2 linked regions of the Homo sapiens genome follow. The protein of the gene in region 2 purifies or fractionates together with the protein of the main gene of each other region. This does not show direct contact. Each region holds a gene or a part of one and is shown on either strand. Other genes may lie near its edges.

The links.
Region 1: the proteins of IQGAP2 (region 2) and MAP3K3 purify together in Homo sapiens (tandem affinity purification; one large-scale study listed by IntAct). This does not show direct contact.

The regions. Positions count from the first base shown.
Region 1 is NC_000017.11:63,632,285-63,636,107, forward strand, and holds part of MAP3K3 (mitogen-activated protein kinase kinase kinase 3), read left to right. Parts: intron 1-396; coding exon 397-518; intron 519-2,424; coding exon of another isoform or gene 2,425-2,517; intron 2,518-3,823. UniProt on the Homo sapiens protein: Component of a protein kinase signal transduction cascade. Mediates activation of the NF-kappa-B, AP1 and DDIT3 transcriptional regulators.
Region 2 is NC_000005.10:76,703,508-76,707,330, forward strand, and holds part of IQGAP2 (ras GTPase-activating-like protein IQGAP2), read left to right. Parts: intron 1-3,692; coding exon 3,693-3,806; 3' UTR 3,807-3,823. UniProt on the Homo sapiens protein: Binds to activated CDC42 and RAC1 but does not seem to stimulate their GTPase activity. Associates with calmodulin.

The sequences.
Region 1 (3,823 bases), on a different chromosome or scaffold from region 2:
AGTTGGAGACCAGCCTGGGCAACATGGGGAGACCCCGTCTCTACAAAAAATAAAAAAATCATCCAGGCATGGTGGTGCATGCCTGTGTTCCCAGCTACTCAGGAGGCTGATGTGGGAAGGTCACTTGAGCCCCAGAGTTGGAGGCTGCAGTGAGCTATGATCACGCCACTGCACTCCAGCCTGAGTGACAGAGCAAGACCTTGTCTCGAAGAAAAAAAAGAATCCATTAAAATTCAAATTGCCATAGTCTGACCTTTTGGGCTGCATCTGATTATAGTTACAGGGTCTGTCATTTTACCTGGGCAGAACTCCCTGAGTATTAGTTATACAGTTTGTGAAAGAGCTTTGCTGGTCTGTATTTAAGTGTCTTAGTCCATGTGCTCTCTTTCATTGCAGACGAACAGGAGGCATTGAACTCAATCATGAACGATCTGGTGGCCCTCCAGATGAACCGACGTCACCGGATGCCTGGATATGAGACCATGAAGAACAAAGACACAGGTCACTCAAATAGGCAGGTGTGTGTGACCCTGGCAGAGCTAAGTGAGATTTGTTGGGGAGGGGTTTTCAAATGGGAAATATACGAAAAGCCAAGGAGACTACATTACCAGGGTTGAATGCTTTTGACCCCTTCCTTTCACAGTCTGTTAAATGGGAAGTAATACATACCAACCAGGTATGGTTAAATGGTAAGTGATATTGGGAGGCCGAGGCAGGCGGATCACCTGAAGTCAGTAGTTTGAGACCAGCCTGGCCAACATGGTGAAACCCTGTCCCTACTAAAAAACACAAAATTAGCCAGGTGTGGTGGTCCATGCCTGTAGTCCCAGCTACTCAGGAAGCTGAGACAGGAGAATCGCTTGAACCTGGAAGGCAAAGGCTGCAGTGAGCCGAGATAGCACCACTGCACTCCAGCCTGGGCAAGACAGAGTGAAACTCTGTCTCAAAAAAAAAAAAAAAGTTATATATGCCATGCAGTTATGGATCTATGATTTGGAGTCTTAAAGCCTTGTGTAAGCATTTCATCTGTTATGGGGACAGTATTCATATTCGTTTTTCCCCTTTACTGATATTTGGCAAATATTTAATTCAGATTCATGATCCCTAAGTCAGAAGGTTTTTAGCTACCTTACAGTATATAGTCAGGAAAAACTAATTAATTTGGTATTAGCTTATGTAAAATATAATTAAGAAGGTAAATTTATTAATTAAAATGTCACCTAGTATATTCTGAAGGCAATAATGAGTGATTTTGTTATTACTGTTTACAGTTATTTTACCTTATTAACCTTATTGATAGTGCCTGTTTTATTGAGAGTTGTATGCTTCTTTAGGAAAACATTGCCTATTTTCCTTAACATTTAAACTTGTGTGTCATTGACAATCTTCTTCTCACCTGTAGTGCCACTTACCTGTTTCCTGGGTACTTTGTTCTGCAGAGAGGAGTGAATGATGGGGAGCTTTCCTACCTAGTGGGTATCCAGTGCTGTGTCAGCTAGCTATATTGGGCATGTTTGATGAAAATTTGTGTATGACATTCTCCCTTTTGGTTCTGTTTGTTATCAGCTAACCTCCTTTCTTCTCATTTGCACCTTGTTTACCAATTCTTCAGAATTGGTTCCTAGAGATAGTATAAGGCCCTAAAACTTTTCCTGTCTGTGGTCTGCTAGATAGAGCCTTCCAGAGTATTTCCTGCCTTTAGGAATCCTAGGGACCCCAAGGGAAGAGGAGTCCTTTTGTTTCATGTTAAAACAGAAGGATTAGTTTAAAAAGCTGCTTTTGTTGTTGTTACCTTATAGTACTGGAGGTATAAACAGATAAGGGCCCATTCTTACACTATTTTCATATGTTATTCAGTCTGACTGTGTGAGTTCTCCCTTGCTATAACTCATTTGTATTCAAAGCCACTTTTCGAAGGAGCATTTTACCAGAAGTGAGTCCCCTCCCCCTTGCTTGAGCCTAATGACCTCACTTTCCTTCCTGTCTTCCTATGTAGTGTGTGCTTGCTAACATTGCTCCAGTTAGCTGATCTTTCTCCAGACTGGACTATTAGCATGAATATCAGTTAGTGGGTGAAAAGGGGAAGCTTTCTTGAATTGGAAGGCCCAAAAGGACGAGGCTGGGAAAAGGAGGGGCGGAATGGTCACTGATGGTTCCTTGAAGGAGGATTCCTTTTTAGGACTCCTTCTGCTTAGAGCCTAAAAGCCATGATGAGGGAAGTCTTGATCTTTTGCTGTGCCTGCTGCTGCGCTGGTAGAGTGAAGTCAGTGGTTATGAAGGCAGAAGCCTAAAAAGGATTGACTGTTAGGAAGTAATCTTAACAAGAGGTACTAGATCTTTGGATCCATGATTTACTTCAATGTTGTCAAACTTATGTTGCACGAAGGATACAAATTATTAACCTCAGTTTTTTTGTTTTTAAAGAAAAAACACAACAGCAGCAGCTCAGCCCTTCTGAACAGCCCCACAGTAACAACAAGCTCATGTGCAGGGGCCAGTGAGAAAAAGAAATTTTTGGTAAGGATCCAGATTACCTGTTAAAGCCAAAATGTACTTTTAAATCTGCTACTCATGCTGCAACAGCAGAATTCACTTCCCAGACAAGTTGTTTTAGTGGATTTGTAAAAAGCATTGGTTACCCGTGACCTGTGTTCAGTGCTTCTAGTCACCATTTCTCACAACAGTATTATTCATAAACAGCCTCTATCAGTGCTGTCCAATAAACCTTCTGTGATGACAGAAATGTTTTATATCTCTGCTGTCCAATGTGGTTTTGTAGCCACTAGCTACATGTGGCTGTTGAGCAACTAAGGAACTAAATTTTAAATTTTATATCATTTTAATTAATTTAGACAGCCACATGTGGCTAGTGGCTATTGTATTGGACAGCATGACTTTATGCACTATGTAAGGGACTGTTGATTTATTGGGCAAGAAATTATGTATATGCTTGGAGATGTGTAGATATTCATTGGTATGTTCATTCCTTACACACGTCATGAGTTTCTGTACATTGTGATAAGCTAATAATGGGAATCCTACCTAAGATTTCTGTTTTAGGAAGAATGTGAAGATGTGGAACTAGAACAGCTGTTTAGAAATTGAAGCTCAAAGTTTTATGTTAATATGGGCAAAAGGGGAAATAAAATGCTAAGATAGCTTTTCCTCTTAATGAAGTCAAGGTTATAGAATGGCCTGTCCTGGGAAGTGTAGCAGATGTTTTGCTTCTGACCAAGAGGGATATTCTTCAGCAAAATTCTGAAAGCAGAAAAAGACAAAGTCTCAGCAAATGCATTTCTAGGAAAGATAGGGTAAGAGGTAGTGCGGGGAAGATGTTGGGGAGAGGTATTTATAGCCTAGTATAATGAAAGGAGCCTGGTGATATTAATAATCATTTAACATCGGATTTTATAATTCACAGAGTTACACATTTATTATTATTATTGTAGTTTTTGTTAGCCTAGGCCTGAGATAGAATGAAACAGTTTTCTTCATTACCAGTTCTTCTGCCAGAAAGTCCATGCTTAGGAAGAGAGAGGAATGAAAGATCAAAACCTAATTTAAATGGTGAAGAGTTGCCAAATTTGGTTAAGAAATGTCTAATTGGATTACAGATTCAAATTACAGAGTCCCAGTTGAAAGAAGCTAAGCATTTTGGCTAGCTGGAAAGGTTGTTTATTCAAGGGTGGAATGGGGCTGGCAGAGGCAAACAGCCTTTCACTATGAGAATGGCAGTGCTGGCTACAAGGCAGAGTCGAGACTGGCACAGCTTCATGGAGCTCAAGCTTGGCCCAGCAAGGAAAGCCAGAGGAGCTGTGGGTTC
Region 2 (3,823 bases):
ATCACAGGAATGAAAGGCATTATGCAAAACAGATATCTATACATAGAAAAATGGTGTTTGCAATATAAATTATCGTTATTTTATCATAAGAGCCACATTTAAGCCAAATACACGTAAATGAAAACCGAGAAATCCAGTTTCTGTGCAAAAAAAAAAAAAAAGAGAGCACTGCAAACAAATGTTCATCTGCCCCCAACTTCTTAATCCTTAGCACAAAACCAATTTAAAGAAGTAATTTATTTTTCTTTTTTGATGTAACACTTTTTAAATGGAAATAACATCTTACCTGGGCCCCAAACTACTTACAAAATGGTTTCCAGGTATTTTGCATATGTTTACATGAATCATCTCACTAAGATCCTGAGAGTGATGTGAATTCTGGCCTCACTGTCTGTGCAGCCCAGGGCTCCATGCACTGGAATTACTTCCCCATCATGGGAGTGTGTGCCAGAGCCCTTCTTTTCTGGCAGCCCTTGTAAGTTTAAAAGAAAAACGGGAGCTGAATGGGTTTGATAAGGACATTGAGATAATGGAGTAAATTAGAATTCGGAGATAAGATGAAAGCTATTATGTAATTATTGAAAGTATAATTAAGTAAACAGTATTGTTTTCTAACTTACTTTAAATGTCACTAAATGTATCCATTTAATAATTTAGCTAATTAGGGTCTTCAGTTATTTTGTGTAACAGATAAATACAGGAAGAGAAAAGAAGGTGCTTGTGGTGATACCCTTTGGTTAGTGATTCCTCTGTAGAAATAGCAAAAGACATATGTGATTGCCAAGAAGGAAATTATCCAGGGCCAGTCAATATCAACTGGACCAATGAGTCACAAGTGACCAGGAGACACCTTATATTGTGTTTAGAGAGAAAGCAATAATTCCATGAGACTTCCTTTGAGTACTGGTATAAAAACCAAGCTTCACTTGTTCCTTTGTTAAGGATTCTGTATACAGTAAGATTAGCTGTTCATACCATTCATTTATACACATAATGGATTGTGAAATGTTAATCCTTAGCTATATGCAGGTGACCAGTATGTCCTGGGTTTTTTAAATCAGTAGTGCATAATCAGAACTGGCTACATCCTTAGCAGGGCTCAGAGCAAAATAAAAATGCAGTGCCCTGTTTTTAAAATTATTAAGGATTTTAGGATGATGACAGAAGAGAATAAAACCCTGGGCATGGGACCCTGTGCGGCTGCACAGATTGCATACCCACGGAGCCAGCCCTGCATTTGATAGCTGTCAGATGTAAAGGCAGACTTCTATTTATATATGCAGCTTTCAGTCAATTGCATGAATGTGTAAATTGTCAAAGAGAAATGTGATGGCCAGGTCCTTACTGTGAGTAAAGGACCAGGAACAGGACCAAAGTTTGAAAGGACTAAAGAAAGCCCCTTCTAACATTACAGCTCTATGTCTCTTGGTTATCTTCAGCCCATTTTCCCTTCAGTTCCTAAAGAAAACCATAGGATAGAATTATATCCTATAATTATAGGCCATATAGGTAACAGGAGGATATGACTTATGTGATATATATTCTTCTTGTAAAAATAATGTCAGGTATTTATCGGGGACTGCAGGGTGGGCCTTCTTCCTCTCCTAGATGAAGAACTGAGGTTCAGACAGCTAATTATGGAAGATAATTAGCTGGGATAATTATGGAAGATAATGCAGCTGGGATCCAAGTTCTTCATCACTCTAGTCCACTGCCTGTCTCATAGGATTCCAGTTGATCCTGCAAGACAAGAGTAGCTTACAAAGGGTTTGCATATACCTTAATCTCATATCTCATTCCCAGTAGCACCCTTGTGAAATTGGCAGTGTTATCCCCAATTTACACACAGGGAAACAGAACTTCAGAGAAGTTATGTCATGTTGCAAGGTCTTAAGATAGCAAATGGCAGAGCTAAAACTAAAGTCTGCTTTTCAAGTCATGAGTCCAGCCATGTTTTCTCTGCTCCCTACTTTGGGGACCCAGCTACTTCCCCTACATATGCCATTCCTTTTCAATCTAACTCTATTGGTTTAATTCTTTTCCACTAGACTTTGTTTAACAGATGTTGCATTTCCCAGAGGAAAAGTGAATCTCCTCTACACTCTAAATAGCTAAAAGTATTATTGATGAAAGGACTTCAATTCCCTATAGAATTTTAGTTCTAGAAGCATATCTGAATAATGTAGGGGTTTTCTTAAGTGCAGTGAGAGGTAATTGAGGAAGTGGAGGAGGAAGCTGCCAAGAGTCAGAGTTCTCTCAAAGATGACTCCAACTTCTACAATTGACCTTGCTAGAAACAAGAAAATGAGACTTAGATATTGGGCCAGGACAGCTCAGGAATTATATCTTCCATTGGGAAAGGCTTCCTGTACCTATGTTACTATGAAATGTTACAGCTTAGTTTCATGCATATGGCTGGTGTGATCCAGTTACTTATTTTAAAAAGAGAGTTGATTTCCTTTGTTTATATGCTGGCAGTGAAAAACAGAATGACAGTTCGACTTAAGAATGAGGGCTTGTTCTCAGTACAGAAACAGAAGTAGCCTAGTTCAAGAAGTGCGGACCACCGCTTTGTACAATGGTCTCCAAACTTTGGTCACTTCATCAGGAAATAGTATGAGCACTTCTCTCCATACATAGTTATTTGTAAAGTATACATGCTTCTGCTATTGTACTCTAAAACGTGCTGTATTATATACCAAAAAAGTCCAAAAAATGAGAAAAAATAAATAGAAATAGGAGTTCTAATATTCTTTTTGCTTCCCCAGTGAATGTCTTGCTCACTTCACTTTAAAAAAACACTGCTTTCTGTGTTTTTGTTTTTGTTTTTGTTTTTGTTTTTGTTTTTCGGGTTTTTTGAGACAGAGTCTTTCTCTGTCGCTGAGGCTGGAGTACAGCAGTGCAATCTCGGCTCGCTGCAATCTCTGCCTACTCTGTTCAAGTGATTTTCCTGCCTCAGCCTCCTGAGTAGCTGGGATTACAAGTGTGCACCACCACGCCCAGCTAATTTTTGTATTTTTAGTAGAGATGGGGTTTCGCCATGTTGGCCAGGCTGGTCTCACTCTCCTGACCTCAAGTGATCCACCTGCCTCAGCCTCTCAAACTGCTGGTATTACAGGAATGAGCCACCACACCCAGCCAGAAAACACTGCTTTCTAAAGAATATGCATCTAGCCAGAACTTTGTGTTTTAACATTTTCGATTAAAAATTGAAATTATATATCTGACATTAACTTAATGATCATCATTTACTTTCATACAGCCCTTATCAATTCCAAAAAGCTATTTTCTTTCATCTAAGTCACAATCACTTGGGAATTTATTAAAATGCAAATTGATGGGCCCCACCAGAGAGCTACATAACAAGAAATTCCTGTGGGAGGAGCCCAGGCAGCCTTTATTTTAACTAGCCTATGTTTTTAACCAGATGATTCTGATGTACACTTAAGTTTTAGAACCCCCATCTATGGCCTGGTGCCATGGCATGCGCCTGTAGTCCTGGCTACTCGGGAGGCTGAGGTGGGAAGATAGCTTAAGCCAGGAGTTTGAGACCAACCTGGGCAACATAGTTAGACCCCACCCAGGTGATTAGGTCAATTGAATCTGACTTTTGTCAACAAATTCTTCTAATATGTTTTTTAAATGCACAAAATGTCAAAGTTGAGATTTAATGATGCTTTTTACAATTTCAGGATTTACTTCAGATGCAATATGAAGGAGTAGCTGTAATGAAAATGTTTGATAAGGTTAAAGTGAATGTAAACCTTCTCATATACCTGCTGAACAAGAAGTTCTATGGAAAGTGAAGTGCCTACAGAAATTT